7 linked regions of the Homo sapiens genome follow. The protein of the gene in region 3 interacts with the protein of the main gene of each other region in a pairwise test. Each region holds a gene or a part of one and is shown on either strand. Other genes may lie near its edges. The genes, in order: MYH10, KIF5B, ECPAS, RAB11FIP4, UBE2G2, MYO10 and ANKRD17.

Region 1 (4,436 bases), on a different chromosome or scaffold from region 3:
TTTTGAGACGGAGTCGCCCTTCTCTGTCACCCAGGCTGGAGTGCAGTGGTGTGATCTCGGCTCACTGCAGCCTCCACCTCCCAGGTTCAAGTGATTTTCATGCCTCAGCCCCCCAAGTAGCTGGGACTACAGGTGTGCACCACCACACCTGGCTAATTTTTGTATTTTTAGTAGAGACGGTGTTTCACCATGTTGGCCAGGCTGGATTCGAACTTCTGACCTCAAATGATCCACCTGCTTTGGCCTCCCAAAGTGCCGGGATTACAGGCGTGAGCACCATGCCCAGCCCAGAGTTCTTACTTTTTGAGAAAAACAAGCCTCTGAATTCTGTACACTCTTGGATAAGATACTGGATGTGGGGGTGGGAGCCCTGCTGAAGCACCATACCTGTGACTCACCTTTCCTCTCCTATGGTAGTGGCACAGGAGGAAGAGGGCACTTCGGCCCATTTCACACGTTTCTACTGCTGCCAAGAAGCCTAGTCATAGACCCCTTACCCCCAGAACCAGTCTAACCGGAGAATATTATGGAACAAGAAATCGGCATTCTCTGTTTGATTCTGTGCTGCCCTAGTATTTCTCTCATCCTAGTTGGCCCGCACTAGAGAGGCTGCCCTTGGCCTCATCACTGAATCCTCCAAAAGCATCTTCAATGCGTGTCTGCCTGAAAATGCAGCCTGAAATGTCCTGGACCCCTGAAAATGTCCTAACCCAGCAGTGAGCTTCATTGGCTGGTGACCAGAGCCCTCCTAAATCACTCCCTTGACAGGTGGGCCAGCTCCTGCCTTTGGGTGGTCTTTCCCTTCCTAGTGCGTGTGCATCCTGTGAGGCACTGGCAGGAACAAGAGTTGGAGCCAGGACTGGCCTGAGAATTATTCTGTCGTCTGACCTGGGAGACAGCGCCCTCAGCAAAAAGGGCCTGGCGCCATCATTTGAAGTTGGTGTGTAGCACCCACCCTCCAGTCAGATCACAGATGGGAAATCGAGAACAGAAGGTGAGAAAACAGATTCCACGTTCACATGATTATTCTTGTTTATTGAGGTCTCTTTATTCTCCACGGGTGCTTTTTTCTTCAAGTAAACAGAGCAGGCGCAAATATCTATAATGAATAAATTTATTGTCTTACAAAAATCATTGTCTAGAAATATGGGAATACAAGAAAAGATATTTGCGGTCAGGTGTCTGGTGGTCAACAGCCAGTACAGTTCATAAAGGGGGAAAATCCAAGATTCCAAACCCACAGGACAAATTCTTCCTAATAGATGTTAAAGCTTTTAACCCAAAAGGTTTGTGTTTTCAAGCACATTGCAGAGGATCAAGGATTTAGAATTAACACTGATTCATTGTCACTGAATGTCTGTAATACCACTTTGACTAGAGAGGTACATGATATGAAGCACAGTCAAAACTGAATACATTAAATTGTTATAGAGGCGAATGATATATTCAACATTGTCTTAGTACTGTAGTGTCTAAGGCACTTTCCGTAATGTCAGTTTGCTTAACTACCAACCAAAAACAGGATGCTAAGTGTTCACTGTAACACTGTCCAAAGGGAAGGGAGAAGGAAAAATGAAGGAGTCACACCCACTGGCATGTCAACATTCAGGAAGATGGCATCTGTTCTGGAGGCTCCATAAACCTCATTGACAAACTTGGAACAAGCCTCGGACACAAAACCAATATTCCCATTTTGGGCTCAAAGCAGCGGCTGAATTTGCAAGGTCAGCATGAGGGCCCGGCTGGCGATGGGGAGGGGCCTTCCACCAGCTCGGCTTAGGGGTCCACGGCTGCTTGCTCCTGACGTGAGGAGGGCGCCGGCAGAGCCAGGCGGTTCGGGAGACCATCTGGAAGTCTACATGATCCATGGCTGCCACCTGGGGCCTCAGCTGCAGTGTGGCCACTATCCCTTCTATGCACAGACCAGCCCTCGCCAAGGCCAGTTCACATGAGTAGATGCGGGACACCATCGACTCGAGGGGCAGGGCCCCCCTTGGGGGATGGACATGGTAACCCCAAATGGGTGTTGCTTCCGATCCAGCCCACCCCTCCTACTCTTTCCAAAGCCCCTTTCACAGTTTGCTCACTGAAATAGCATTGATCATTATTTGAAGGAAATGAGAGAGACAAGTGCAGTTTAGAGTCCACAGTGGTCTAGGAGACTTGATGTGGCTGAGGAGTCGGGGGCCACGTGAACACAGAACTAGGTTACCTGTCTGTATGACAGAGAGCATGCAGAGCGACTGAGTGACGACCACGGCGCTGCCCCAATAACCCAGCGACCCGCAACCAAGGGCCTGGAGTTTGTTTTAAAAAGGGTCTTACCATGTTTTATAAAATGGTCTCTTGATGACTATATGGAAAATAGATGCAATGATGAAACAATCTGTTTAATATATGTGTCCTGTGTGTGTCTATATATAAAAAGGGGAGCAATTGTACCTAAGTCTGAAGCAGGATACAGTATGCATAGGCTGGAGAGCCTTAAGACACAGTTGATCTTTCAGGAAGGAATCCCGTAGCTTGCCAATTTCCGAAATCTGCAGGAGGCCCCGGGTGCATTCCTAACTGTCCCACTGTATTGCCTCCTCTGGCTTCCTGCAACTTTACTCTGACTGGGGTGGCTGCGTCTCGTTGACATCACTGGTCTTACTTTCTGTGTCATCGTCGGAGAGCTCCAGGGAAGCTCCTTCAAGGTGCAGCTGGCGCCGGCCAGATCGGCTGGAAGAGAAGCTGATGGGGCCACCCCGCCTGGAGAACACAGGAAGCAGATGTGTGTGGGTAAACAGACAGGAGCACATGGCTGTCAATATGTTCAACCACTCAATGCCACGGAACCTTCCCCTTGCACCCCCTCCTCGGACACACGACCTTGTGGGGGTGGCGGTACGATGGGGAAGGACTGCGTGCTTTTCTGCCTCTCCCACAACCCTGCCTGCAGAGTACGCGAAGCAGGGTCCTTGGAGAACTGGGGAGGACTTGATTCAGCCTAGGACTGTGTGATGGAAATGGTAAGGAAGACGGATTAAGGCCAAGCTCTACCTGCTAACCAGGGAATCAGCCAGATAGCAAAGTGGGCCACATAGGGACTCTGTTGCATATTCTTTGTTTCGGCGTTTTTATAACCATTTAAAAATGTAGAAACCATGCTTAGTTTGATGGCTGTATAAAAGCAGGGTATGCACCAAATCTGCCCATTGGCCAGATGTGCTGAAACCTCCGCCGACCTGGTCTTCTGGGGCAGAGACTTCAGCTGTAGCTCTCTCACGCTCTGCCCTCTCACTGGTACAGAGCAGATCCATTGTGGTGAGGAGGACGGTGCTGAGGAGGGCTGATGGCACCAGGTCCCAGGAGGAGCTCCTGCCCTGCTTTTTAAGAGAGGCTGGGAGCTCACTTCACTAATGGATATCTGGACAGGGATGGATGCCTGACCCAGCTCCAGCCTGGTGTGGTGGATTAGTGTGGTCCTCTAGTGACTGGCAATGAATAGGGCCGCCTCCTCTTTTATTCTCCCCAAGGACGACTATAAAGGTCAGAAATCTTAAATGAAGTGGTTCGGGAGAAAGAATGGGTCACTGGGTATGGATCTAAGTAAACTTCCTCTGACCAGCTGCACCCCGAGCCTAAGCTAACCCACAAAGCAGCTGCCTGTCAGCTCGGGGCCGCATGCCTGCTCACCTCAGCCGGTTCTTCAGGGTGCTGACCTCGCGGCTCAGGCCCTCGTTGGCCTCGGTGGCATCATCCAGTTCCCGCTGGAGTTTACGCCGAGATGCGTTGGCACGCGTCGCTTCTTCTTCTGCTTCCTCCAGCTGGCGTTTAAGCTGCTTCATCCGAGCGTTGGCCTTCTCCATCTTGGGGAGGGTACATGAACCAAAACAAACCAAACTGGTGAATCCAGTGTCGGCCTCTCTGTACCCCGAGCGTGGCAGTGTGGGGCTCTGCCTGTTACCCTTGTGAGCACGCGTGTACACGGATGTACACGCGTGCCTGGGGGCTGGTCGGAGGCTCTGTAACCGGCCTGCCGCTCTCAGCAAAGCTAGCATCTACAAAGCACACTAGGCCAAAAGAAATGAAAAAGTACTCAAGACTCTGTTTTTACCAGTGAGTTTTCTGCAGAAAAATGACAGCGTTTACTGTCTTCACACACGTGACCTAGGGGACTGAAAGGGAATTGCTATTCTTGCAAAACGTGGAAGAACCAGCAATGTGGGACAATCCCCAGCCCAGAAGATGGTACAATGCATCTTTACACCTCCTTTCAAGGATGGGCATCTCAGATACTAGACTTGGATTCAAGCAGAAAGCCACCCTGGGATGACATGCCACAGAACTAAGAGCCTCCCTTTTGGACCCTTCATTCCTGAGCCACACAGGCACTGGTCAGTGCTTCGTGGGTCCAGCGCACACCACCCTCAACTGTGCTCCGTGTTGCTAGG
Region 2 (4,436 bases), on a different chromosome or scaffold from region 3:
CCAGCCTGGGTGACAGAGTGAGACTCAGTCTCCAAAAAAAAAACACCACAACATAGATATTTAGATATTTTATATATTTTTAAAAGAAGCAGATTTGCTTATATAATGTGTTTAAAACTCAGTCTCTGTTTTCTAACAGTTACAACATCAACATTATGCATTAGCCAATTTTAGAAGGTTCCTGTTTTCTAATGTAGCAAAGGGGACTAACAGATTAATGAACTACAAATTTACATTTAAATTGGTTATTTTCAAGAGTACCTACAAACTACAGATAAAATTTGATGTCTCTCTAATCAAACTCTTAAGAGTAGTACTCAAGAAATGGTGGTATGCTTGGCAAATAAGATCATGAAGCTTTTCATGTTCTTTTTTCTTTTTTACTGGTTATTGATGACATATGAACATTTTAGAAAATGTAAAGAAAATTATAAACTTGTAATTTTGTTTCATTCTTTTGAAATCTTATGTATAGGTTAGTAAAACTGGAGCTGAAGGTGCTGTGCTGGATGAAGCTAAAAACATCAACAAGTCACTTTCTGCTCTTGGAAATGTTATTTCTGCTTTGGCTGAGGGTAGTGTGAGTATACATGTCTTCTATCTCCCTGTTACCTTATGGGGCATTATTTAAATATAGGTGTATATGTGTGCCTGGGTGTGTATGAGAGAGAGAGAGAGAAAGAGAGATTGAGATTCAATGTGTTTGAATCAGTATGTGTAAGTTAGTTGTCTTTTGGGAGTTTATTTTATAATAACATTTTATTATACTGGTCTTGTTTTCTTTCTTTGTTTTTGTATGCAGACATATGTTCCATATCGAGATAGTAAAATGACAAGAATCCTTCAAGATTCATTAGGTGGCAACTGTAGAACCACTATTGTAATTTGCTGCTCTCCATCATCATACAATGAGTCTGAAACAAAATCTACACTCTTATTTGGCCAAAGGTTTGTTGTTAAGAAAGTACAAAACCTAAATTTAGATAGACCTTTTGTTTATAAAATGTAGGAAAATGTGAGCTGTTATTCCAACCTGTACATACTGTTTTGTGCTAGACACACTCAGTTTGAATTGATGACAGATAATACAAGGTGGGTCTGATTTTTAGACTGCTTGGTTTAAGTTTTAGTACACATTAAAGTCAGATGTAATTTTAGTCAAATTTGTGTGACAAGCTGTAATTTGGTATTAAAGAAAATAAGCATTTGAATCAAATAATGAGGTCAAAGCCTGGCAAACATAATCCTCTGTTAAGCCTGTAGACATGCATGACAGGTTAATATAATCTGTATGAGATGATTAGGAAAATCAGTAATGATGATTCCGTCTTTGACTTTCAACAGTAATTTCTTAATTCAGCCTTGCAAACAAATTGGAAAAATATAGGCCTTTGTCTTTTATTTTTAGTGGTTTGTTGATTTTTTTTTTTTTAAAGCTATTCACAGATTTTGGAGCAGACTCAAATTTAGTTGAGTTGTAAATAACGTCATATGTTGCGGCTTTTAGTATTTAGTCTAAGAGATTACTGGACAAGCATAAGTTTCTTAGCCATATATACATATATTCCATATAGATAAAATTAAAAATAATTTCAGTCTCATCCTTTTTTTCCTCCAATTACATCTCTTAGGGCCAAAACAATTAAGAACACAGTTTGTGTCAATGTGGAGTTAACTGCAGAACAGTGGAAAAAGAAGTATGAAAAAGAAAAAGAAAAAAATAAGATCCTGCGGAACACTATTCAGTGGCTTGAAAATGAGCTCAACAGATGGCGTAATGGTAATAACTTAAGAATTTGTCATCTTCAGTTTGTTAAATACAGATTTAGAGCATAGAAACGTAGAAATAGTTCAGCAAAATCAGTAAGTGACTAGATCAAGAAATTTAATAGACATCGAAATAATTTTTAAAAAAATTAATAGAAATCCTGGAGCTGAAAAATAAAATGAGCAAAATGCAAGAGACCATCAGTAGTAGAATTAATTAAGCAGAAGAATCTGAACTTGAAGACAGATTATTTGAAAATAACACAGAGAAGAAAAAGTTTGAAAGAACGAGGCTGGGTGCACTGGCTCATGCCTGTAATCCTAGCACTTTGGGAGGCCAAGGTGGGCAGATCACTTGAGGTCAGGAGTTAGAGACCAGCCTGGCCAACATGTTGAAACCCCATCTCTACTGAAAACACCAAAATTAGCCTGGCATGGTGCTGAGCGCCTGTAATCCCAGCTAATCAGGAGTCTTGAGGCAGTAGAATTGCTTGAACCCTGGAGGCAGAGGTTGCAGTGAGCCTAGATTGCACCACTGCACTCCAGCCAGGGTGACAGATTGAGACTCTGTCTCAAAAAAAAAAAAAAAAATTTTTAAAGGAATGAAATTGAAATTAGCTTTAGACGTCGTTTTTTTATTAACCACTTTATTTTCTTATTTTAGGGGAGACGGTGCCTATTGATGAACAGTTTGACAAAGAGAAAGCCAACTTGGAAGCTTTCACAGTGGATAAAGATATTACTCTTACCAATGATAAACCAGCAACCGCAATTGGAGTTATAGGAAATTTTACTGATGCTGAAAGAAGAAAGTGTGAAGAAGAAATTGCTAAATTATACAAACAGCTTGATGACAAGGTAGGTATTGCTTGATTTAGGTCTGCTTTATATTAGGATACTATTGACATGGGTGTTTTTATTTTCTAACTTTTCTCATTTCAGTGCTGTGGGCACTTAGGATCTTTATGCATCTTCCTTGATTTCTGTTAATCTTGTAAAAATTATTGTATTAACAAAATAAAAAGTCATAATTTCAATTTCTGTGTGGAAACTGTATGAGCATGTATCTTTTCTTCCCCCTCTTTTTAAGCTAAAAGAACTTTATAAGGCAGCAGTCCCCAACCTTTTTGGCACCAGGGACTGGTTTCAGGGAAGACAGTTTTTCCGTGGATCAGGTCGGGGAGATGGTTTTGGGATGAAACTTCCACCTTGGATTATCAGGCATTAGATTCTCATAAGGATCCTCTAACCTAGATCTCTTGCATGCACAGCTGATAATAGAGTTCGCGCTCTTAATGATATTCTAATGCTGCTGATCTGGCAGAAGGCGGAGCTCAAGTGGTAATGCTTGCTGCTCACCTCCTGCTGTGCTTCTTGGTTCCTAACAGGCTTCCAGTACTGCTTTGTGGCCTGGGGGCTTGGGGACCCCTGTTCTAATGAAAATTTGGCATTGGGTCATTGGGAGCCTCAATGATACCAATTGTTAGAATCAGGGCTCTGAAGACTCCAATAAAAGATGATGTGAGAGATTAAGGGAAACACAATAGAGTGGAAATAATATCTTCCTGCTTTGCATATAGAAGTAATGTCAATAGTATGAATAATAGCAAACTAAGAACGTAATAGAATGGAAGGCAAGAACAAGAGTAGTAAAGAGATTAGAAGAAAATATTTTCTTAAGTTGATATTTTTAATATATTTTAAGCAGAGATGGCAGGTTCGAAGTACATGACCATTATAAGTATTGATAATTGAAAGAAATTCCTTTTGTTTTGCCATTTTCTTAAAAGAGATTAAAATAAGCAATGTTGAATTTAGAGAAATGGTTTTGAAATATTTCTGGGGAGTAGTAATCTTATAACCTGTATTGGGAAACAACTAGAACCAGGTTGTTAGCTACTGGTTAACCGGATACTTCACAATTCTAGGATGAAGAAATTAACCAGCAAAGTCAACTGGTAGAGAAACTGAAGACGCAAATGTTGGATCAGGAGGAGGTGAGTTGAATACCTTTTACATTGCTTCCAGAAAAGCTTTATAGTTTTGTTTTCTGAATCCCATTGACTTTGTCTTTAATAGTTGTATAATTTTGGGTATGACTGTCTTTGTGGGAATAAGAATGTCACATGGATAAAGTGAATTTTTACTTATTCATCGTATCTACCCAGATACAATCTGTTGTTCATTTCCGCCATCTTTTTTTTCACCCTGGTTCTTGACATTTCTCTTCTTGTCACTTACTTTGGATCCTCATTTTATCTTCTCACCCAGCAGAGCAGGGGGATAATTGAAAAGCAGTCCTTTAAATTTTTTTGTGGGGGTGGTGGGCAGGGTGAAGACAAAGACTGCTTCGGTAAGAAAGAGATACTCTCCATCAGTGAACTTAATCCTGGTCAGATCATCTTTCAACTATAGCATTTCATATTTCAACTATAGCATTATTCCTCAAAGGGGCACTATTGATATTTTGCATTGGATAATTTATGTTATTCTGTCCTTTGTATTATAGGACATTAAACATTCCTGGTCCCTACTCCTAAATGCCATTAGCATTCTACCCTATTATTAACACTCCCACAGATTTCCGGATATCCCTACAGGAGAGCCACTAATGTGGATGATTGTGGTTTTCTCCTAACTAGTCTCTTGGCATCCCTGCAGTTCAGATT
Region 3 (4,436 bases):
TGCCTCCCAAAGTGCTGGGATTACAGGCGTGAGCCACTGTGTCCGGCCTATTTATTTTTTTTGAGTAATACCATTGAGCATGAAGTTGCCAGAAGGCTGGGTGCGGTGACTCAAGTTTGTAATCCCAGCGCTTTGGGAGGTCGAGGTGGTCAGATCACTTGAGTCCAGGAGTTCGAGACCAGCCTGGGCAACATGGTGAAACCCTGTTACTACAAAAAATATAAAAATTAGCTGGGTGTGTTGGCATGCGCCTGTAGTCCCAGCTACTTGGGAGGCTGAGTGGGGAGGATGGCTTGCACCCAGGAAGTCAAGACTGCAGTGAGCTGAGATCACACCACTGCACTCTAGCCTGGGTGACAAAGCGAGACCTTGTTTCAAAAAAAAAAAAAAAAAAGTTGCCAAAAATAGGCAGGTTAATTTTGGGGTGAGACTTGTTATTGTTAGCATTTGTTATCCTTTCACAAACCTCATGTTTGAGTCAGTGATTATAATAGAAGAATAGTAAAGCTGTTTATTTATTGTGTGTTTACCGTGTGTTCTAATTGTTTTGCATGTATCAACTAATTGAATCCTCAGAACAACCCTGTGAGTTTGGTACTGGTACTGTCTCAGGGGTAGAGCTACCCTCATTAGACAGTTAGGACTTGAACTTAGATTCTCTGATTGCAAAATTTGTATTAATTCTGCCCTACTACTACTGTGTTATTCCTGTCCTGCATGGGAGAATATATAGTTCATAACAAGATCAAAATGGCTTTTTGTGTGTGTGTGTGTGTCTAACTAGTATCCAGAGAGAACCTTCTGTAGTGTATAAAATGTGGCAATCGGGGCCAGGCGCAGTATCCAGAAAGAACCTTCTGTAGTGTATAAGATGTGGCAATCAGGGCTGGAGCGGTGCCTCACACCTGTAATCCCAGCACTCTGGGAGGCCGAGGCTGGGGGATAAGTTGAGAGCAGGAGTTCAAGACCAGCCTGGCCAACATGATGAAACCCCCGTCTCTACTAAAAATACAAAAAAATTAGCCGGGTGTTGGGACGTGCACCTGTAGTCCCAGCTTCTTGGGAGGCTGAGGCAGGAGAATTGCTTGAACCTGGGAACTGGAGGATGCAGTGAGCTGAGAACGCACCACTGCACTCTAGCCTGGGTGACAGAGCTAGACTCCATCTCAAAAAAAAGAAAAAAAAGAAAAAAGGACCAGGCGCGGTGGCTCACGCCTGTAATCCCAGCACTTTGGGAGGCTGAGGCAGGTGGATCACCTGACGTTGGGAGTTCGAGACCAGCCTGACCAACATGGAGAAACCCCATCTCTACTAAAAATACAAAATTAGGCAGACCTGGTGGCGCATGCCTGTAATCCCAGCTACTTGGGAAGCTGAGGTTTAGAGTTCCTGAGGTTTGAGGTCAGGAGTTCAAGACTAGCCTGGCCAACATTGTGAAACCCTGTCTCTACTGAAAATACAAAAATTAGCTGGTTGTGGTGGCACACGCCTGTAGTTCCAGCTACTCAGGAGGCTGAGGCAGGAGAATCACTTGAACCTGGGAGGCAGAGATTGCAGTGAGCCAAGATTGTGCCACTGCACTCCAGCCTGGGTGACAGAGTGAGACTCCCACTTGAACCCGGGAGGCGGAGGTTGTGGTGAGCTGAGATTGCATCATTGCCCTCCAGCCTGGGCAACTAGAGTGAAACTCCATCTCAAAAAAAAAAAAAAAAAAAAAAAATTCTGATGTTACTGAACAGAACATAGTAGATTTTTGGGTATGTTGCCAAAAAAGAAAACCATTAGTTTTGACTGTTAAAGGCAGTTCTGAAATCTAGTTTGTAAATTAGTTTAGGTCAGAGCCTGTAGCTTTCTTTCCTTATGCTTAGAGTGATTATAACTATTGCAAATGAAATGAAATTCAATGCAAGACATGTGGCTAGTTTTTCTGCTAATACTATCTTCTGCCACTTTATGGAAAAGTTGACATTATAGTTAATATTTCAGGAGTGGGTTGAGAGATTTCCAACAGGGAAGGAAGCATTTGAGACTTTTCACCTGGTCAGCTGTTTAGTGGTTTCGTATTCTGGGCTTTATAATTATAAGGCATCCTTAGAATCTGATCTTCGTTGGGATAAAGGCAACTCATGAAGGAGCAACAGCCTATAATCTTGAAGGATGCACTATTCAATTTGACCATTTGACATAGCCATGGGAAACTTCAGTTGCAAAAGTTGGCCAGATAATCAGCATGTCAGGTGTCTTCTGAGAGAGCCTCTGCTAGTGCTGGGAATCCTGGTAGCTCTTTTAGAGGATGAGATTTGGGAAGCTGTGTGTTGAACATGATTCTGTGACCATACTGAAATAGCCCCTAAGAGCTAATTGCTTAAATGACCAGAATACAGGCTTCCAAGCTGATCTTTGTAGAAAGGCCAAGGCAAGCCTGTATCATTTAAATTTTAGTTACTTAACCAAATAGGAAAGTTAAGATGGAAAAATGACCACGGATATTTCTATTTTTTATTAATTTCCATTCTGATTTTTTTACTTTCACTGCATTCTGGGTTTTTTTTTTTTTTGAAACTAGAGTCTCACTCTGTCACTCAGGCTGGAGTACAGAGGCACAATCTTGGCTCATTGCAACCTCTGCCTCCCAGGTTCAAGTGATTCTCCTGTCTCAGCCTCCTGAGTAGCTGGGACTACAAGGCGTGCACCATCACAACTGGCTAATTTTTGTATTTTTAGTACAGATGGGGTTTCACAATGTTGGCCAGGCTGGTCTTGAACTCCTGACCTCAAGTGATCTGCCTGCCTCGGCCTCCCAAAGTGCTGGGATTATTGGCTTGAGCCACTGCACCTGGCCCACCACATTCTGTTTTGAATTATGCTTTCAGTAAACTATAATATGTGATCAAGGCCATTGTCAGTGAGAATAGTTGGCACAGGAGCATTGACCTTGTTCAGAAGATAGATGTTAAAATTGAAGTCACTGCCAGTGTTCTCAGATGGTTTGATCCCTGTTGCTGAGCTCTCGTTTCAGACCTGGCCTTGATGCTTCCCATTTTATATGGCTTGTTTTGCCCATGTATTTTTTCAATTCAATAAGCAGACTTTTAAAATTGAGTAAATAATGTATGGTGCTGTCCTCAGAGGGCTTATAATTCAGTGCAGAGACAGATTTATGTGCAAATGTAAATAACATACACAAAGCACGGTAAGTAAACTGCCTAACACAGTTCTTTGGAAACCTCAAGAAATGAGAATGGTATTTGAGGCTAAAGGAAAAATAGCTTGAGCTGAGACTTGGAGATAGGGAAATATTATGCAAAACAAAAAAAGCTGAGTAAGTCTGTTATGATGGGAATGGGGGTGCTACGGCTGTGTGAAGTACTGGGAAAGGGGATCAGCTGTGTGGTTTGAGACTTGGCCCATGCTGCCTTTATGATTTGAGATCTTGGACAAATTACCTTACCTTTGCAAGTCTCAGTTTCTTCCTCATAAAATTGGAATGACAAGATTCACTCATAGTATTGTTAGGATTAATGTATGTGAAAATGTACTGTGTAAACACTTAAGCTCTTATAAATTATTATTATTTTTGGTGTGGGATGTAATAGCAGATGATGCTGTGGAGATAGGTTGGGACCAGCATGTTGTAGGAATGCCAACAGAACTAGTTTGGACTTTGTTCTGTAGACAGTAGAGAACCATCAGAGCTTTTAAGCAGGAGCGTAACATGAGTAGGTCTGTTTTGTACGGGTAACAGGTGGCATTGGTGTAACACTGATTGCAAGGATCCGGAGATCAAGAGCAGCAAGACTAATTAGGAGGGTATCACAATGGCCAAGTAAAAAGAAACTTAGGGTCTGAGTTGGGACAGTGGAAGTGGATTTGGCAAGGAGTTAATATAATGTAAAATCCCTAAAATAGGGAGAAATTGTTGGCTGACGAGATGAGGGTTGTTGAAGAAGGGAGGAGTTAGAGATGAATCTAAATCTGACCTGAGACTAGAAGGTGGAGGAGTAACAGAGAGTGTAGCCTCTAGACAGATTTAGGAAAGTGAAGGAAAGAGAGAACAGATTCAACAGATAGGTAGTCTGTGTTCAGCAGAAAGATTATTTGTTGAATGAATGGGTTGAATTATTGAGCCCCCATGTTGTTCAGGGAGACTGCTTTGAGTAGTGGCTAAAACCTCTGGAACTGGAATCAGAGACAGTTTTGAATCCTGATTCTGATACTTCTTAATGTGTTCTTGAACAAGGGACCTAACTTGTAGGCCTCGGTTTTCTCATCTGTAAAATGAGATAATAAAACTTACAAGATTTTTTTCTTTTCTTTTCTTTTTTATTGAGACAGGGTCTCTCTCTGTCACCCAGGCTGAAGTACAGTGGTGTGATTTCGGCTCACTGCAGCCACAATTTCCTGGTCTCAATCCATCTTCTGACCTCAGCCTCCTG
Region 4 (4,436 bases), on a different chromosome or scaffold from region 3:
CAGGACAGCCTCAGCATTTGGATGCCAGGACCAGAGTCGAAGTGGCTCAGCCCCTAGTATTACCTATGCAGGTGCCCAGGCCCCACCCCCAGAGATTCCAATGTGATCAGTTTGTAGAGGGGGCCCAGGTGTGGGTAATTTTTTGCAAAAGTAGAAAACACTAGCCAAAGTCATTTAAAATCAAGACTGACAAAGTCCCAGGGCCGCTAAGACTCCAAAGGGGAGCTGTCTCCTGCCTGGAACACCTCTCCCCACCCCCAGCCCCACACTGCTCTTCTCCAGGGCAGTGTTCTTTCGGACATTGCTGACATGCTGCCTCTGCCCAGGGGTTGGGGCCCAGCTCACCTGGGAGCTCCTTGAGGACAGAGGTCAGCTCTTCACCCCGTGTCCCAGGCAGAGGGTGAGGCTCAGTGACAGAGTGTCTTGTAATTCATGTTACAATGCAGCCGGGGCATTTTGGAGGCCTGATCTTTCATAAGCATACTCTGGTGTGGCAGGAAGGGTAGGCTTTGGCTTTGGAGAGAGCTGGGTCCCTCTCCCTCCCTAGCTGGGTGGTCCTGGGTTCCACCTTCCCAGCTTGGAATGTGGAGCTGTTCCTAAAGCCTCAGAGTCATCAGGAGATTAAGTGAAAACACACCGCAGAAGCAGGTGCTGGGGAAATGCTAATGTCCTCCCTCTCTGGACTGGGAAGAGCGGGAGTGATAGCCTAACCCAGAGTCACAGCTTGATCCACTCAGCTGGCTATGTTGGCATTTTTCTGGCCGACCTAAGACTCACACTCCACTCTGAACCAAACCCGCACTCCTTCCAGCACAGGCGGAACTCAGAGCTGACTTAACTTCTCCAGCAGCCCCCTCCCCTGCTCACAGCCTTGCCCTGTCATGTGGGGTAGCTGTAGATGGGACTCTCTGCCAGGCCCTGGTCTGGTTTTCTCACTCTGGGCAGGTGGGGGCCGGGAGAAGGAATCACAGAGGGCGGCCAGGCCCCAAAGCAAGAGCCGGTGGTGTGGTTACCTCATCGCGCGAGGCGGTGTCTATCTCCGCAGCCAGAGACTGGGCTTTAGTCTGGGCAGCAAAGAGGTTTTTTGCTTCGTAGAGGCTGAGGCTCAAAATCTGCCCATTCAAGTCGTCGTTCTGATCCCGCAGCTTATAATTCTCCTACAGAGAGAAGGACGAAGGCGACATCAACCCCAAGAGGCATCCACAGCCCACTGGAACCCACTTCTCCACATCCACCGTCCCCGACCTGCCGCCAGCGCCATTCCCACAGGTGTGTGTCACGGCTGGTTCAAGGGGCCATAGATGTTGCAGCCTTTGCCAAGCGCTGGGGGCAAGGAGGGCTGGGTCCTGGTCCAGGGGACTGGCATCCTGGGAGTGCACAGGGTTTGTGGAGGAGTTACAGCCCTGCTCAGCGCAGCCAAGGCTCCTGGCCATCCCTTCCTCCCTAGGCCCTGCATAGGGACATCACCCACCCAGCAGCCCAGTGAAGGAAGTGATGCTCTGGGCTCTCTGGGCAGGCTGGCCAGCTCATTTCCTTGGCTCCCCCAGCAGCCACGTTCCGAATCCTGCTTGGTTGGAGTTGACCCAGGCGGACCCGCCCAGATCCCATGCACCGGTCTCACACTCCAGCTTTTGCCTAAAGAGCCCTAATGCTCACACCTGGGACCCTGGGCACCCCACCCCTAGACTAGGAGAAGGGTTGGGGTTTTAGGATTTCTGTGAGAGCACAGCCACCAGCACCTTTGTCCCCAGTGGAACAAACTCAGAAGGATAATTTATGCTGCAGGCTCTTCCACCTGCAGGGTCAGGCAGAGCTGACACTTCACCCAGCACCACCTGGCCACTGCCTCCTCCTGATCCACTCCCCCACCCAAAGGTCTCTAGCTAAGGCAGCGCTCCTTGAAATGTAATCTTCTGGCTAGGCACAGTGGCTCATTCCTGTAATCCCAACACTTTCAAAGACTAAGGGTGGGAGGATCCCTTGAGCCCAGGAGTTCAAGCCTGGGCAATATAGGGAGACCCCATCTCTGGAAATAAATACATAAATAAGTAAATTAGCCAGGTGTGGTGGTGCTCTCCTGTAGTCCTAACTGCTCGAGAGGCTGAGGTAGGAGAATTGCTTGAGCCCAGGAATTTGAGGCCATAGTGACTGTGATCACACCACTGCCCTCCACCCTGGGCAACACAGTGAGACCCTGCCTCAAAAAACAAAAACAACATTAGCTGGGCATGGTGGTGTGTGCCTGTAGTCCTAGTTACTAGGGAGACTGAGGCAGAAGGATCACCTGAGCCCAGGAATTCAAGGCTGCAGTGAGCTATGGAGTGCCAAAGCACTCCAGCCTGGGTATCAGAGCAAGACCCTGTCTCTTGGGAAAAAAAAAAAAAAAAAGGAACCTTGGGTGAGGGTCTACTTCTGGGAGAACCCAATGCCTCCAGGCACTATACTGCAGCTGGGTATGGTCTCATCCTCCACCCTGAGCACCAAGGCAGGGTCTATTTCCTTACATAGACGTAAGGGAGAGATCTTTGGATCGATTTTCCTGAGCTGTGAAATGGGGCAGTCAGCCCTGGCAAACAGGTTGCTGAGAAGCAGACAGGCAGTGCTGCTACAGCTCTGGGCTCCCCTACCACAGATCCTGCACAGGAAACCCACGTGGTGGGCCCGGCCACCCTGCCCCACTGGACACAGAGACTGCTAGACCCACCTGCTTGAGCCGCTTGACCTCGTGCTCGAGCTCCACCTCGCGGGCCCTGGCATTGAACTCGCCTAGGCCAGAGGAGGCACTGCGGCCCCTGCCTGGCCGCTCGCAGTCCAGCTTGTACATCTGCAGGTGCTCCAGCTCCTTCCGCAAGTCCTCGATGAGCTGCGAGGGAGAGAAGCAGGTTGGCAGGAGCAGGGATGCTGGAAGGAGCCCTGGTGCCTGCTGGCCTGGGACCTACCTCCTGCGTCGCCTCCCGCTCCTTCTGGAACTCAAGGCGGTTCTGTCGCAGCTTGTCCATCATGCGCTTGTACAGGTCCATCTCATCTTTGAGCCGCAGGCTGGTGTCCTCCAGACGGTCAGACATGCGCTGCCGCTCCTGGAGCAGGGAGACCCGATCAGGGGAGGAGAGTTCCCAGAGAGGGGCTCACTATGTCCAGGGGTGTCCCTGGGGTCTGGTCAGCCATCTTCACGAGGCAGATGCACAGTGAAACCAGCTCCCTTAGACGGAGCCCTGAGTCTTGGCTTACAGAAACGGCCAGAGCCCCGATGATTCTAGAAATACAACTAAAAACCTCAGGCCTCTGAAGTCCTTCAACGATGCTAGATGCAACCTGAATTGAAGGTGTTAGCCCAAATAGAAGCTAACCTCTTTCTAAAACTAATTTTTCTCCATTGTATAAAGTAATAAATACATTCGCTGTAGAAAACTTGGAAAATCAGAAATACAGAAACACAAGTTGTTATTCACTTTTTTTGCATTTCTTAGGGGGTGCGGCATTTGTTTAGAATTTCAGAAGCAATAAACTAAAGGCTCCCGATGGCCAGCCCTGCCCCTCCAAGCCTGGATCTGCTGCTCACCTCATCCAGTTTCTCTGTTTGAGACTTGAGCCGAGTCACTGTTGTTCTAAGCTCTGTATTTTCTTCCTCCAACTGCTGCACCCTGGCGAAAGGAGAAAGACAAATCTCAGAAACCTGGAATGTAGACTATCTGATAAGCGCCTGCCAGTCTGCAGTGATTCTCTGCTTCCTCCCAGAGGAAAGATACCAGAAACCAACTGAGAGAAAGAATATGATTATTATGTCAAAGACAATTTAGCCGTGAGCTTCCTATCAGCCAAAGCAAAATAGTAAGGACTATTTGTAAGCAAAATAGTAAATTATCATTCTTATTTTCTTTCTTTTTTTTTTGAGACAGAGTCCTGCTCTGTTGCCCAGGCTGGAGTGAGGTGGCACAATCTCAGCTCTGCAACCTCTAACTCCTTCAGCAATTCTCGTGCCTCAGCCTCCTGAATAGCTGGGATTAGAGGCATGCACCACCACGCCTAGCTAATTTGTGTATTTTTAGTAGAGACGGGTTTTGCCATGTTGGCCAGGCTGGTCTCAAAAACTCCTGGCCTCATGTGATCCGCCCACCTTGGCCTCCCAAAGTGTTGGGATTACAAGAGTGAGCCACCACACGTGGCCTTTATTTTTCCAATAAGTGGAAACATTCATTAGAGAGTAGGAACGCAGATTCTTCTTGTATGCATCCTTCAGATCCTCAGACAACACGGGGATGTCTTTCTGCTAGATGGAGAAACAGTCTTCTTGTGGCTTCTGTGACTGGGCCCTCCTGTTAGACTCTGTAACTTGAAGGCAATGATCATATTGGCTTTTCATTCTCCGCCAACAGCATCTCATCCAGGGCTCTTCTCTGAGCGCTCACTGCACCTCCCTCTGATGACCACAGGCATGG
Region 5 (4,436 bases), on a different chromosome or scaffold from region 3:
TTAGAGACCAGCCTAGCCAACATAGTGAAATCCCGTTTCTACTAAAAATACAAAAATTAGCCAGGTGTGGTGGCACGCGCCTATAGCCCCAGCTACTTGGGAAGCTGAGGCAGGAGAATTACTTGAAGCCAGGAGGCAGATGTTGCAGTGAGCTGAGATCATGCCACTGCACTCCAGCCTGGATGACAGAGAGAGCACCTCAAAAATAAAAAATAAAAAAAAATAAATAAATAAAACAAAACCTCAGTAAGACTGCTATACACCCAATAGAATGGCTAAAATTTTTAAAACTGGAAGGGCGCAGTGGCTCGCAGTTGTAATTCCAACACTTTGGAAGGCCAAGACGGGCAGATTGCTTGGGCCCACGAGTTCGAGACAAGCCTGGGCAACATGGCGAAACCCTATCTCTACTAAAAATACAAAAATTAGCTAAGCGAGGTGGCATGCAACTGTAATCCCAGCTTCTTGGGAGGCTGAGGTGGCAGGATTGCTTGAGCCTAGGAGGCAGAGGCTGCCATGAGCCATGACTACACCACTGCACTCTAGCCCGAGTGACAGAGTGAGAACCTGTCTCAAAAAAAAAAAGAAAGAAAGAAAGAAAAAAGAAAACAAAAAACAACTGGCCACGCGAAGTGTCAGCAAGGAGGTGGGGCAACGGGAACACTTAATACACTGCTAGGGAAATGTGAACTAGAGGAAAACTGGCCGTTTCTTTAAAAATTAAACACACACTTCCCATTATAACCCTGGTTATTTACACAGGAGAAATAAAAGCATATATCCACAGAAAGACATGTACATTTAGGACATGCACACAGGGGGAAGATGGCCATGCGAAGATGGAGGCAGAGATTAGAATTACACTACCTCAAGCAAGAGAATGACAATAAACGCCAAGGATGACCAACAATCACCATTAGCTGGAAGAGGCAAGTAAGGGTTCTCCCCTCGAGCCCTCAAGAGGAAGAATGACCCCATCAACACCTTTATTTTAGATGTCTGGCCTCCAGAACAGTAAAAGAATAAATTTCTGTTGTGCTAAGCCCCCCATGGGCAGCCCACTTCTACCTGGGTCTATCTCTGACACTCCTAGGAAAGGCTGGATGATGAATGAAGACAGAACATCAAGACAAGACAGCAGTTTACAACAATTGAGTTCTTTCCTGGCTCTCCTTTTTTCCTGTTTATGAACCTAGGCAAAATCATCTTGTCTGTTGCTCAATTCCATAAAATCTGTAAAATTAGGGGGCTTGAACAGAATCATAGCCAAGGTCCCACCACCTCTGAATTTCTGCAGTTATATGACTACTCCCAAATACAATAAAGTGTGCATGAACATCTAACCAAATTTATCTAAACCCCTTCTATGTAGAGATTGATTCTGTCAAGTCCACCTTTACACTGGAATGTGCTACCTTAAAATACGTTATGAGGACAAACTAGATGTTAAGATACACACACAAAAAAAACCAGTAAATGATACACAAAAAAAACCCACTAAATTTTATCACATTATTAAGATACAGGAAAAACAAAGTCCCCTCAATAACACACTGTATTCATCTTCTGTCACTGCTGTAACAAATTACCACAAATTTAGTGATTTAAAACAATACTCATTGATGATCTCAGAGTTTCCAAGCGTCAGAAGTCTGGACACAGCATGGGCCAGCTAGTTCTCTGCTCAGAGTCTCACCAGGGCTGCCACTCCAAGTTCATTGAGGTTGCTGACAGAATTCACTTCCACGGGTCTGTTGGTCTGGGATCATTCTCAGCTTCTTGAGGCTGCCCGCCTTCCTTAGGTCATGGCTCCTTCTTCCATCTTCACAGCCAGCCACAGAAGGTAGAGATCTTGTCATATGTTGAATCTCTCTGACCACCCCCATCCTGCCTTCACTGACTGCTTTTGAGCCTTATGTTATTATTGGATCCTTCACGGTAATCCAGAATAATCTCCCACTCTTTAGGTCTGCTGATTACTAACCTGACTTGCATCTCCAAAGTCCCTCCACCGAAGTACTAGAAAGTGCTTGAATAACAAGGGCATGGGAATCTTAGTGAGGTATGTTTAGAGTTCTACCTTCTACACATAGTCCAAAATTTCATGTTAACATGTAAAAACACACAACACACTTCCGTGACAAACCTTCGGAAATCAACCATTATTTAGGTCTTATTACTGCAAACTAATTGACAATATAATTGAAATAACAGATGAAGCTTCTGTCAGGACAATAAAAGGGAGAACATATCTTTGCTAATGCAAATATCCTTAGAAAATGCAAGTTCAACAATGCAAAGACTGGCCTGAAGCAGCAGCCTGAACTTAATTTCCTATGCAGGGGTTTAATGATTTTCTTCTCAATAAAAATGAGAAGGCCGGGCGTGGTGGCTCACGCCTGTAATCCCAGCACTTTGGGAGGCCGAGGCTGGCGGATCACGAGGTCAGGAGATCGAGACCATCCTGGCTAACACGGTGAAACCCCGTCTCTACTAACAATACAAAAATTAGCCGGGCATGGTGGCGCGCGCCTGTAGTCCCAGCTACACGGGAGGCTGAGGCAGGAGAATGGCATGAACCCGGGAGGCGGAGCCTGCAGTGAGTCAAGATTGCGCCACTGCACTCCAGCCTGGGCGACAGAGCAAAACTCCGTCTCAAAAAAAAAAAAAAAAAAAAAAAAAAAGAGAAAATACCTGCTCACAGTCTAGCCTAACCCTAGAAATAGGGCTAAAATAAAACTAAAACAGAGACACAAACACAAACCAGGATACCAAGAAATGGTAGGTGTTCACACATCTGACCCACCAGCCAGGTTTCCCATGAGGACACAGAAGTAATAGTCCCCCACATCCAACCCTCTGTTCGAGTATGAACATTGTCAGAATCAAAATGGAGTCACTTTCGCCAAACCCTGACAACATAGAGGGAGGTCAAGATGAAGACAGAAAAATCAGCCAGGTGTAGGGGCACATGCCTGTAGTCTCAGCTACTCAGGTGGATTAAGTGAAAGGATAGCTTGAGCCCAGGTCAAGGCTTGCAATGAGCTGTGGTTGTGCCACTGCACTCCAACCTGGGTGACAGAGCAAGACCCTGTCTCAAAAAATAAATAAATAAATAATTATTATTTGCCAAAATATGCTTAATTTTTATTGCTAAAAAATGCTAACAATCATATGAGCCTTCAGCAGGTCATAATCTTTTTGCCGGTGCAGTCTTGCCCGGATATTGATGACTGCTGACTGATCAGGGTGGTAGTTGCTGAAGGCAGGAGTGGCTGTGGTAGTTTCTGAAAATAAGACAACAATTAAGTTTGCCACAGGGACTGACTCTTACTTTCACAAAAGATTGCTCTGTAGTCTGTGATGTTGTTTGACAGCACTTTACCCACAGTGGAACTTCAGTCAAAACTGGAGTCAATACCCTCAAACCCTGCGGCTGCTTTATCAACTAAATTTATGGAATAGTCTCAATCTTTTGTCATTTCAACAATGTTCACAGCATTTTCACCAGGAGTAGATTCCATCTCAAGAATCACTTCTTTGCTCATCTGTAAGACTCAACTCCCCATCTGTTCAAGTTTGATCATGAGATTGTAGCAACTGAGTGACATCTTCAGGCTCCACCTCTAATTCCAGTTCCCTTGCCATTTCTACCACACCTGCAGTTGCTTCCTCCCCTTAAAGTCATCCATGAGCATTGAAATCAACTTTTTCAAACGCCTGTTGTTGATATGGTGACCTCCCATGAATCACAGATGTTCTTAATGCCATCTAGAATGATAAATCCTTTCCAGAAGACTTTTGATTTTCTTTGCCCAGATCCATCAAAGAAATCACTTTTCATGGCAGCTATGGCCTTATGAAATGTATTTCTTAAATAAGTCAAAAGTGCTCCCGGATCCATGGGCTGCAGAATTGGTGTTGTGTTAGCAGGCACAAAAACATTTATCTCCTTATACCTCTCCATCAGAGCTCTTGAGTGACCAGGTGCACTGTCAGGAATAGTATTTTGAAGATAATCTTTTTTTCTGAGCAGTAGGTCTCAACAGTGGGCTTATATTCAGTAAACCATGCTGTACACAGATGTGCTGTCATCCAGGTTGTTTTTCCATCTCTAGAGCTCAGAGTAGATTTAGCATAATTTTTAAGGGCCCTAAGATTTTCTGAATGATAAATGAGAACTGGCTTCAACTCAGTCAACTTAAAGTGACCGACATTAGCCCCTAACAAGAGTCGCCCTGTCCTTTGAAGCCAGTCATTGACTTCTCTCTAGCTGTTTACGTTGTATATGGCATCATCTCCTCCCAATACCGTATAAGGCTATTTTACGTACCTTGTAAATCTATTGCTTAATTTAGGAGCCACTTTCATCTTGATCTTAGCTAGATCTTCTGGAGACCTTGCTGCTTCACCTTGTGCTTTTCTGTTATGGAGAC
Region 6 (4,436 bases), on a different chromosome or scaffold from region 3:
GAGATTCCATCTCTATAAAAAATTAGCCTGGCATGATGGTGTGCGCCTGCAGTCCTAGCTCCTATGAAGGCTGCGGCAGGAAGATGGCTTGAACCTGAGTTCAAGGCTGCAGTGAGCCATGACCACACCACTGCCCTCTAGCTTGGGTAACAGAGCAAGACCCTGTCTTAAATAAATACCTAAATAAATAGATAAATAAATAGTAAATAATTTTCCAAAAGGAGTGTGCCTCAAGGCCCCTAAGTGTTAAGGTTCAGCAAAGTATACTCAAATGTTAGTAACAATCAAAGCATACAATGCAAATGCTCATCATGAAGTAGGTATGGTGAGCAGTTCAAGCCAGCAGTGGGCCTCAGTGAGATCTTCACTTTCCCCCATGTCTAGCACATCCTTTTAGGCTCTCTAATATCCCTGGCAGGAGAGAACATGCAGTTTTTTTTTTTTTTTTTTGAGACAGCGTCTGGCTCTGTCGCCCAGGCTGGGGTGCAGTGGCGCGATCTCGGCTCACTGCAAGCTCCGCCTCCTGGGTTCACGCCATTCTCCTGCCTCAGCCTCTCAGGTAGCTGGCACTACAGGAGCCCGCCACCGCTCCCGGCTAATTTTTTGTATTTTTAGTAGAGACGGCGTTTCACTGTGTTAGCCAGGATGGTCTCGATCTCCTGACCTCATGATCCACCCGCCTCGGCCTCCCAAAGTGCTGGGATTACAGGCGTGAGCCACCACGCCCGGCCGAGAACATGCAGTTTATCATGAGAATGGGTCTCGACCAATTCCAGCAGCAGCAGCAACACACACATTGGTTTGTATGTCTGTATATATGAGAGAGAGCAATGAGACTGAGACAGAGAGGGAGACAGTGAAAGAGAAAGTGGGAGAGAGAGGGAGAGAAAATAGAAGGATGAAGAAAGAGCTAAGAAAGGAAAACGAGACAGGGAGAGACAGGGGAGAAGGACTGATACTGGAGGCAGTGGTTGCAAATGCTTCGTCCTGCCACTCTGCACCAAACCAGGGGAGTCACGACTGTGTTCATGCTGGTAGGACCACAGCACCCATGTCACACCAACATGACAAGGTGTCCCTTCATTCATCTAAGTGGCCCAACACTGAGGTAAGGGTAGGTAGAACGACTTTCCCAGTCCCCATCCATCAGCCCAGATACAATAACACCTCCGTTATTTCCCACCGCCATCCATCAGCCCGGATAAAATAACGCCTCGCTCTCCCCCTAACCCAGACTCCATGGCGGCTGCAGTCATACCTTTCATGTACAGAAAGCTGTGGAAATACGGCAGAGTGACACAGCTGTACACAGAGTCACGCCGGTATGAAAGCTCATCATCTGTATCAAACCTGGAATCAAAGTCCTCTTCACTATCTTCAAACTGGACCGAGAGAGAGAAGCCAACGGTGAGGGAAAAGGCCACAAAGCAAGCCACGAAGATACCCAGCATGTATCATCATTGAAAAAATACAAAAATACAGCTACTCAAGAGGCTGAGGCAGCAGAATCACTCGAACCCAGGAGGCAGTGACTGCACTGAGCAGAGATCGTGCCACTGCACTCCAGCCTGGGCAACAGAGCAAGCCTCAGTCTCAAAAAAAAAAAAAAAAAAAAAGGGAAAAGGAAAAAGAAAAAAAACAACTGACAAGCAATACGCCTGATTTACGGTAGCACACAAATAATTCGGAATTAAAAATACCAACTTTTAAGGTCAAATGGTCAGTTGAATTGATACATGAAAGACAAGATATACTTGAATCCAAAGGCTATCTGCCCTAAAACTAACAATGCTTTTTAAGGCTATAATTTTAATCAAACCATGCAAGAGTTCACCCCCTCTGAATTACTATATTAAATATATTTTCAAATCTTTGAAAGTCAAGAGAACATTCAATGCACGACCAAAGCGACAAAATAAAAGTAAACTACAGATAAATCCAGAAACTGGAAAAGAGTACATTTAAGCCCTGCAGCTTCTTCCTTTACAGCCACTATAAGAAATAACATCGTGTGGTTTGGATTGTGAAGTTAGTACAAGGAAAGTTTGCCAGTTCACCCCTGGCAAGTCTTGTTCCAGTTCAGGATGTGTCTTCATTTCCTAACGCAGCACGGCAAAGCTAAAAGTTCCATTCAAATTGTAAAAAAAGGGAAGGAAGAAATAAAATAAAATAAACAAAAGTTCCATTTAAAAAGCCAGTTTTAAGCCGGGCATGGTGGCTCACGCCTGTAATCCCAGCACTTTGGGGGTCCGAGGCAGGTGGATCACCTGAGGTCAGGAGTTCAAGACCAGCCTGGCCAACATGGTAAAACCCCATCTCTACTAAAAATACAAAAATTAGACCGGTGTGCTGGCGGGCATCTGTAATCCCAGCTATTCAGGAAGCTGAGGCAGCAGGATAGCTTGGACCCGAGAGGTGGGGACTGCAGTGAGGCAAAATCCTGCCAATGCACTCCAGCCTGGATGACAGAGAAGACTCCACCTCAAAAACAACAACAACAACAATAAATAAATAAATAGCCAGTTTTCTGAAGTCTTGGGCACAGCTCAGCTCTAGGCTTTGTGCTAAAACTGAAACAGGCACATCAAAGTTCTACTTATGAATGCAATTGGCTTATGGAATAAGCAAAAGGTTTAAGATGATCTCTAAGACCACGACTCTGCAATCTTTGCACAGATATCCTACGGGTATCTTCATTCAACTTGAGGATGCAACAGGGGTGGGTGTGACCGGCCACCCATTTCACTGGGACACGCCAGGCAGGTACTTACCGAGGACTGCGCCCCCTCAGAGCTGAACCGGTAGGCACCCGAGCTGTTGTAGGTCCCCACAGAGCAGCGGTAGTCGGGGGACCACTGGCTGCCGTAGGAGTTGGAGAAGGTCACGCTGCTGCCGGAAGTGATGGCACCGTCCTCATAGTCATCCTGGTCGTAGTCGTAGTCGCCGTCTGGGGAGGGCAAGTCCCCAGCGTTCTGGGGCATGCAGTAGGTGGACTCGCCGCTGGAGGAGTTGTGTAGGCTCCCGGAGTCCTGCACTGATGGGGCGAGCAGCACCGTGCTGTCCGCACTGGGGCTGGTGGGCACCACCGTGTCGTTCATGTATGGGTCCTCCTCTGAAGAGTCATCGCTGGTCCGGATGCCACTTGTTCGCTGGTCTGAGTGGCCGTGCTCGCTGGGGTTGGGGGAGTCCTTGAAGGCGTCGTCGTCGGCTTCGAAGCCCTCATCGACCTCCTCCTCTGGGTAGGGCTGGCTGAAGTTGAAGTTGGGCTTCTCCTCGCATGCGCTCTCAGCCAGCTCGCTGGAAAATTCGCTTCCCACCGACAGGGACCGCTCGATATTCCGGACACACTCGTCGATCTCGTCGAAATTGAGGGACTCGAGGAACTCCTGGGCCGCCCTGCACGCTTCCTCCTCCAGCCTGCGGAGCTCCTGGTCCCGCCGCTCCTGCAGCTTCTGCAGGGAAGCCTCGGTCAGCGACAGCTCCTGCTGCTCCTTCATGCGCTGCAGGTCCTCGATTTCTTTCTCCAGACGGAGGATCTCTTCCACCTGCTTATTTTCCTTCTGTTTCTCCAGTTCACGGGTCAGTTCAGCTTCCTTCTGGCTCTTCTGCAAGGCTTCGAGTTCTTGCTGCTTCCTCGTTTCTTCTTCCTGGACAGAAGCAGAAGGGAGATTTCAGAAGGCTTCAGTACAAAAGTCCAAGCATAGCTCCCGCTTTGCAACCAGGATGAAATATGGTCATTATGAGTTGGACTGTGTCCCCATAAAGTCTATAGGTTGAAGTCCTAACCCCAATACTGCAGAATGTGACTGCATTTGGAGATACAGCTTTTAAAGGGGAGACTAAGTTAAAATGAGTTCACTAGGGTGGGCCCCAATCCAAGATGACTGGTGTCCTTTTGGGAACAGGAGACTAGGTCACACAGAGAAAAAAGGCTGCGTGAGGACACACTGGACAGACGGCCACCTGCAAGCCAAGGGGAGGGGCCTCAGAAGACATCAAACTTAAGGATAACTTGATCTTGCAGTTCCGGCCTCCAGAGCTGGGAGAAAATCAGTTTCCACTGTTCAATCCACCAGTCTGTGGTATTTGGCTGTGGTGGGCCTAGCAAACTAACACGCTGGTTATACCGATTTAGAGAAATTATACTCTTGTGATGCACACTAAAACCTCAGCCATTCACTACGCTTTACCCAATTGTAATAGGTCAGAAATTGGATCATAAACACATCCTCTTAAATTGTTCTTCCTGTTATCTTTCTACTTTAATTCAGTTTTGAATCCTAGAGTCCAAGCATTAGAAGTGGGAAGGAAGTAGAAACACAAGAGGCTAAGTTGTCACTGCACTCATTACCTGCTGGGCGCGGAGCTCGGCTTCTCTTCGCTCTCTCTCTCTTTCTCTAAAAATAGTAAAGGAAAAGTGAAAATCAACAACAATA
Region 7 (4,436 bases), on a different chromosome or scaffold from region 3:
ACATAATTATGAATTAAGAAATCTATTTTACATGAAATCCTTAGTTCAGGCACAAACATACACTATACATTATAGCAACACACATTCTATAATTATACATTTTTAAGTCCACTTAAAAGCCAAAGGAAAAACGAAGGAGAAAACAAAACAAAACAAAACAAAACACTGTTTGAATCCTTAGGGATCCAGACCAATAGAAAAGGGCATATACTAATATATTAAATTGATAATCTAGCGATCTGGATATTGTTACTCCATATTGATAGTTTTGTATGTTACGAAAAGATCAAGATAATTTAAATGTACATATTGTTGATATACATTTCAAAATCATATAAAATCTAGAGCTCTTTAAATTGATTCCATATCTCCTTTGATTGGATTTTCACAATAAAACTGCTAAATACAAAAAGTAGCTTAAACAGGATGAACACCAGTCTGTCCGAATCACTAAATTTTATTTCATAATACTAAACAGGTTAAAAAAAATCTAAGTTTTATTGTTAAATGACTAAATTATAATTTACATTTCAACTGGAATATTTTCTTTTAAAGAACCTACCAAAATTACAGAGTTTTTTTTTTTTTTTTTTTTAAGTCAAATTGGTTGTTCTTATCACCTCATCTAAAAGGAGACAGGAAAAATCAATTATCTCATCATTTCCTTCGGGGTACCTATAAAATTGGTTTACTAAAATTAGGTGACTGTCAATCACACATCCATTCTCTACAACTAAAAGAAACAAATGTAAAATATGTAGGTACCTGAAGGAACTCTGGTAAAAATCTTTACATGTGGGGCTTCATTTTAGTGTTAGATTTAGAGAGGGAGAACCACACATCAGAAAAGTTTTAATGTCAGCATAGAAAAAAGGGAACTTGAAATGATAGCAAAGGCAAGGTGTTGAGACAGGTTAAACAGGGAGCTGATTCTGGTTTGGCAAGTGTGAAGAACAGGAAAGACAGACGATTTTGGTCAGCAAATTTTATGGTAGAAGTCTAATAAATGAAGCCTAAGAAATAAAGAGCAGGGACTGTGCTAGAGGGAGGAAAAGAAGACGATGAGACTAATGAGGCTGTAATATACTTTAAACCCCTAAGAAAGAAGTGGAAATCATCATTAAGCAACTGAAAGGATACATCCTACCACAGAAATTTAAGATTGAGGCTGCAAAAGTCAGTGCATGAGTATATGTGCATGTGTGTGAATGTGCACATGCCTGTTGTCAGGGATGAGTTGCAGGTAAGTAGCCAAATGTTTTCAATCCTACTCTTCCTCCTTCTGGCTATGTTTCTCTCCCCATAGAAATGAGCATAATAAAAAAGTAAAATATTTTTGTATTATGACAAGCATCTGTCATATTTCCTAAAAAGTTATATGCACTTAAAATTTTTTTATACAGAACACTGAGAATACACAGAATTGTTTTTGTTTCATGTATGAATCAAAAGAAAAGATACTTTACAAACTTCTGATAATTCTGATCAGCATACAAAACTGTACAACTAGCAAATCATTGTTGACAACTATGCATGCCCAAGCACATCAGGTAAACTCTGATATTATATAAAAAAAATTTTTTTAAACAACCATTACTGTGTAATACCTATTCTTCATTAAAGTGGATACGTAATATTTAACTCTATACATCCTTTAGTAGTTTCACATGATAGAGCACTATTATGATCTGAATTCATATGGACATAGTATCAAATTTAGGGTTAATGGTTACTGTGCTCCAACTTTCACAGGATATTTAATAATTTTAAAAGTTTACTCTCAATTATTATAATCAGCTAGTCATGATTAGTAGTGACTTTCAAATCTATAGAAAAATTTTGCACTCATCAATAAGAGTCGTACAATTCTTACTAGTAATTATTACTAGCATTTTTCCAATGTGGTTATTTAACCCTTAAGACTAGCAGAAATTTTCATTCCACATGTTATAACTACTGAGGTGCTATTAAAGGCGGACTAGCAAACTTTACAGATATTTTTAAGTATAAAATCTATCTCAGCTGGATTCTTAGTGTCTGAACGTTACCTAAATATCTAAACACTATACAGTTTAGTTTCCTATTATCCATTTAAAAGATGAAACTTAAAAAAAAATAAGCTCATCATATTTAATGCTACTGAAACAGTTTTTAAATTAGAAAAAGTCAATCATCCTCTAAGTACAGATGAATGAATAAAAAAGGGGAAGAGATCAGATGGAAGTCACCAAAATTCCACTGTTTATTCCTTTCATTTTTCTGTTTTCCTTCCTTTTCAAATTTTCTTTTTTTAATGAAGCAAATTATCCTTCTCAGTACAGCATTCTTATGGTTCACAACCCTATAAAACCTCATCCCATTACTTTGTTACAAAACACAAAAAATAAGTACCAAAAACTAGAAGCATAAAAACAGTCTTCTAAAGTGTATCTTCTTGTCAATGAAACTAGTTATAATCGAATAAAATTTATCTGGCTACACATCTAAAAATATATCATTTATGATACTTTCAGGGGGGCCACACCTTCTCATGATACAGTTAGAAAGAGACTACACATTAACATTCACAGGGGACAAAATCACTTACATACAGTATAATTAAACCCTATTTGGTTTTGAACTTTATTAATTTTGTAAAAGTGTTTTTTTTTTTAAATATCCATCAGGTTTGAAGTCTGATCCATTAGGATATAAAGTATTTCTGTTCATAAATAAGCTTCCTGATGTGTCCTACTAGTTTTGCACTTCAACTTCTATCAATTTCCCAGTTTATTGGTGTGAATACAGAAGCAAAATGCCAAAATTCAATCTCAGTATTCTGAACTTAAAGGAAAAAAATGAAAACAAAAACAAAAATCAAACATCAACCCCACTACTGAAAAACCTAGATTCTCAAGCTACCAAGCTAAGCCAGAAAGCTTCAGTCATTTGTACTGAATGAGCTAATCTTTAATTTGACCTGTATCCATCTGAGAACTTCTGAGATTGAACTAATACTTCTAAAGCTAGACATGAGTCAGTCCAAAAATAGTTCTCAAGTTGGGTAACGGCAAAAAATTTGGGTACATTCTTACTCGCCTTAAGCAAATCATATTTGATACCTGCTCATAACAATATAAACCCACCTGCCATGATGTCATCCAGCGTGTCATTGAGGGTCTGAGCAGGGCTGGCTACCATTAACCCTTGTTGTGTTTCTGTCAGAATTCCTTGCCCCAGCCCTGCCAACTGTGCTTGGCCCAGTACTGGCTGTCCAACTATCACTCCTTGCAGTTCTGTAAGATTTGCGATGGACCCTGGAGGCAAGGGACCTGCCGCCAGAGGCAAAGCTTGAGGCATCGCCAGAGGCTGGATTGGCGCAAAACCCATCTGAGCAGCAGTCTGCTGGGGTTCATCTTTAAGTAAAACAGGATCCACTTGCTGTAACCGTGCATAGTCTCCCTCAGAAAGCTGCTCTCCAACTCCAACAGGAGTTAGTAATCCCAGGTGTTGGCAAGACTGTTGCTGCTGTTGCTGAAGTTGAATTCTTTGAGCTTTAACCTCTAGATACTGCTTTTTTAGCTGCTGCTGAGTTTTCAGTTGTAACTCTCGTTCTACTTTCTGTAGTTCCTCCAAAATCTTTTGTTTCTTCTGAATTTGTTCCTCCCTTGTTTTGTTGAGCTCCTCGATCTTCTCCTTGGTAAGTTGGTCAGCATGAGCCAGTTCCAAGGACTGCAGCTGTGCATTCTTTTCTATGGCTTCTTTTATCCTCTGTTCCAGTTCTGTTAACTTTCCCTGAGCCTCTTCTACAATGCTCTCTGGAGACTGATTGGTGATGTAACCCTGTACATCCTGGCTGTTTGCTGGCAAATGGCTGCTGGACTTTTGTTTAGAAGCAGCTGTGTGAAAAAGAAACCCCCTCAGAAGTGCACATGAATGGCATCCTCATTACAGAGTTACTGTTGGGAGGTTTAGTGCCAACAGTTATGCACTAAGTAATCATATCCATAACAGGTGAAAATGCACTGTTAAAAAATTAAAAACAAATCCACCTTCTTTTTCACAAATATAAAATGTATGTATTTTATGTGCAAAATCTTTGTAAATTAATTTCAGAATCTTAAAAATAGCACATGGCTTAAATTAGACAATAGAGGAATGCAGGTTTGTGATATCTAAGTGTGCAATTAAAGTAACATCTAAGGCTATGTGTAGATATTTTATATGGTCATAAAGATGTTAAAACTCATCATAAGAACAGAACAATAATGCTAAATTATTAGGGTGAAGAGGAAACAGACCTCTAAGTCAGGTTTTTTCACATTTCATAGTCTGTGCCTTTTAAACACACACACATACACACAAAAAGTACCCAAACCACTAAGAAGTAACAAGAAATTAAAATCTGAGTAAAATATATGTCTTTGTTGGGGCCTACCATCTTCAAGACTAATAGA

Evidence for each region.
Region 1: the proteins of ECPAS (region 3) and MYH10 interact in a two-hybrid assay, tested with the Homo sapiens proteins (one large-scale study listed by BioGRID).
Region 2: the proteins of ECPAS (region 3) and KIF5B interact in a two-hybrid assay, tested with the Homo sapiens proteins (one large-scale study listed by BioGRID).
Region 4: the proteins of ECPAS (region 3) and RAB11FIP4 interact in a two-hybrid assay, tested with the Homo sapiens proteins (one large-scale study listed by BioGRID).
Region 5: the proteins of ECPAS (region 3) and UBE2G2 interact in a two-hybrid assay, tested with the Homo sapiens proteins (one large-scale study listed by BioGRID).
Region 6: the proteins of ECPAS (region 3) and MYO10 interact in a two-hybrid assay, tested with the Homo sapiens proteins (one large-scale study listed by BioGRID).
Region 7: the proteins of ECPAS (region 3) and ANKRD17 interact in a two-hybrid assay, tested with the Homo sapiens proteins (one large-scale study listed by BioGRID).

The regions. Positions count from the first base shown.
Region 1 is NC_000017.11:8,473,198-8,477,633, forward strand, and holds the end of MYH10 (myosin-10), read right to left. Parts: intron 3,852-4,436; coding exon 3,679-3,851; intron 2,752-3,678; coding exon 2,607-2,751; 3' UTR 1,027-2,606; downstream 1-1,026. UniProt on the Homo sapiens protein: Cellular myosin that appears to play a role in cytokinesis, cell shape, and specialized functions such as secretion and capping. Involved with LARP6 in the stabilization of type I collagen mRNAs for CO1A1 and CO1A2.
Region 2 is NC_000010.11:32,032,034-32,036,469, reverse strand, and holds part of KIF5B (kinesin-1 heavy chain), read left to right. Parts: intron 1-475; coding exon 476-580; intron 581-802; coding exon 803-948; intron 949-1,631; coding exon 1,632-1,780; intron 1,781-2,431; coding exon 2,432-2,625; intron 2,626-3,695; coding exon 3,696-3,764; intron 3,765-4,436. UniProt on the Homo sapiens protein: Microtubule-dependent motor required for normal distribution of mitochondria and lysosomes. Can induce formation of neurite-like membrane protrusions in non-neuronal cells in a ZFYVE27-dependent manner.
Region 3 is NC_000009.12:111,473,859-111,478,294, reverse strand, and holds part of ECPAS (proteasome adapter and scaffold protein ECM29), read left to right. Parts: intron 1-4,436. UniProt on the Homo sapiens protein: Adapter/scaffolding protein that binds to the 26S proteasome, motor proteins and other compartment specific proteins. May couple the proteasome to different compartments including endosome, endoplasmic reticulum and centrosome.
Region 4 is NC_000017.11:31,527,047-31,531,482, reverse strand, and holds part of RAB11FIP4 (rab11 family-interacting protein 4), read right to left. Parts: intron 3,642-4,436; coding exon 3,560-3,641; intron 3,078-3,559; coding exon 2,940-3,077; intron 2,864-2,939; coding exon 2,705-2,863; intron 1,158-2,704; coding exon 1,014-1,157; intron 1-1,013. UniProt on the Homo sapiens protein: Acts as a regulator of endocytic traffic by participating in membrane delivery. Required for the abscission step in cytokinesis, possibly by acting as an 'address tag' delivering recycling endosome membranes to the cleavage furrow during late cytokinesis.
Region 5 is NC_000021.9:44,795,058-44,799,493, forward strand, and holds part of UBE2G2 (ubiquitin-conjugating enzyme E2 G2), read right to left. Parts: intron 1-4,436. UniProt on the Homo sapiens protein: Accepts ubiquitin from the E1 complex and catalyzes its covalent attachment to other proteins. In vitro catalyzes 'Lys-48'-linked polyubiquitination. Involved in endoplasmic reticulum-associated degradation (ERAD).
Region 6 is NC_000005.10:16,698,192-16,702,627, forward strand, and holds part of MYO10 (unconventional myosin-X), read right to left. Parts: intron 4,398-4,436; coding exon 4,352-4,397; intron 3,648-4,351; coding exon 2,772-3,647; intron 1,383-2,771; coding exon 1,259-1,382; intron 1-1,258. UniProt on the Homo sapiens protein: Myosins are actin-based motor molecules with ATPase activity. Unconventional myosins serve in intracellular movements. MYO10 binds to actin filaments and actin bundles and functions as a plus end-directed motor.
Region 7 is NC_000004.12:73,136,406-73,140,841, forward strand, and holds part of ANKRD17 (ankyrin repeat domain-containing protein 17), read right to left. Parts: intron 3,879-4,436; coding exon 3,126-3,878; intron 1-3,125.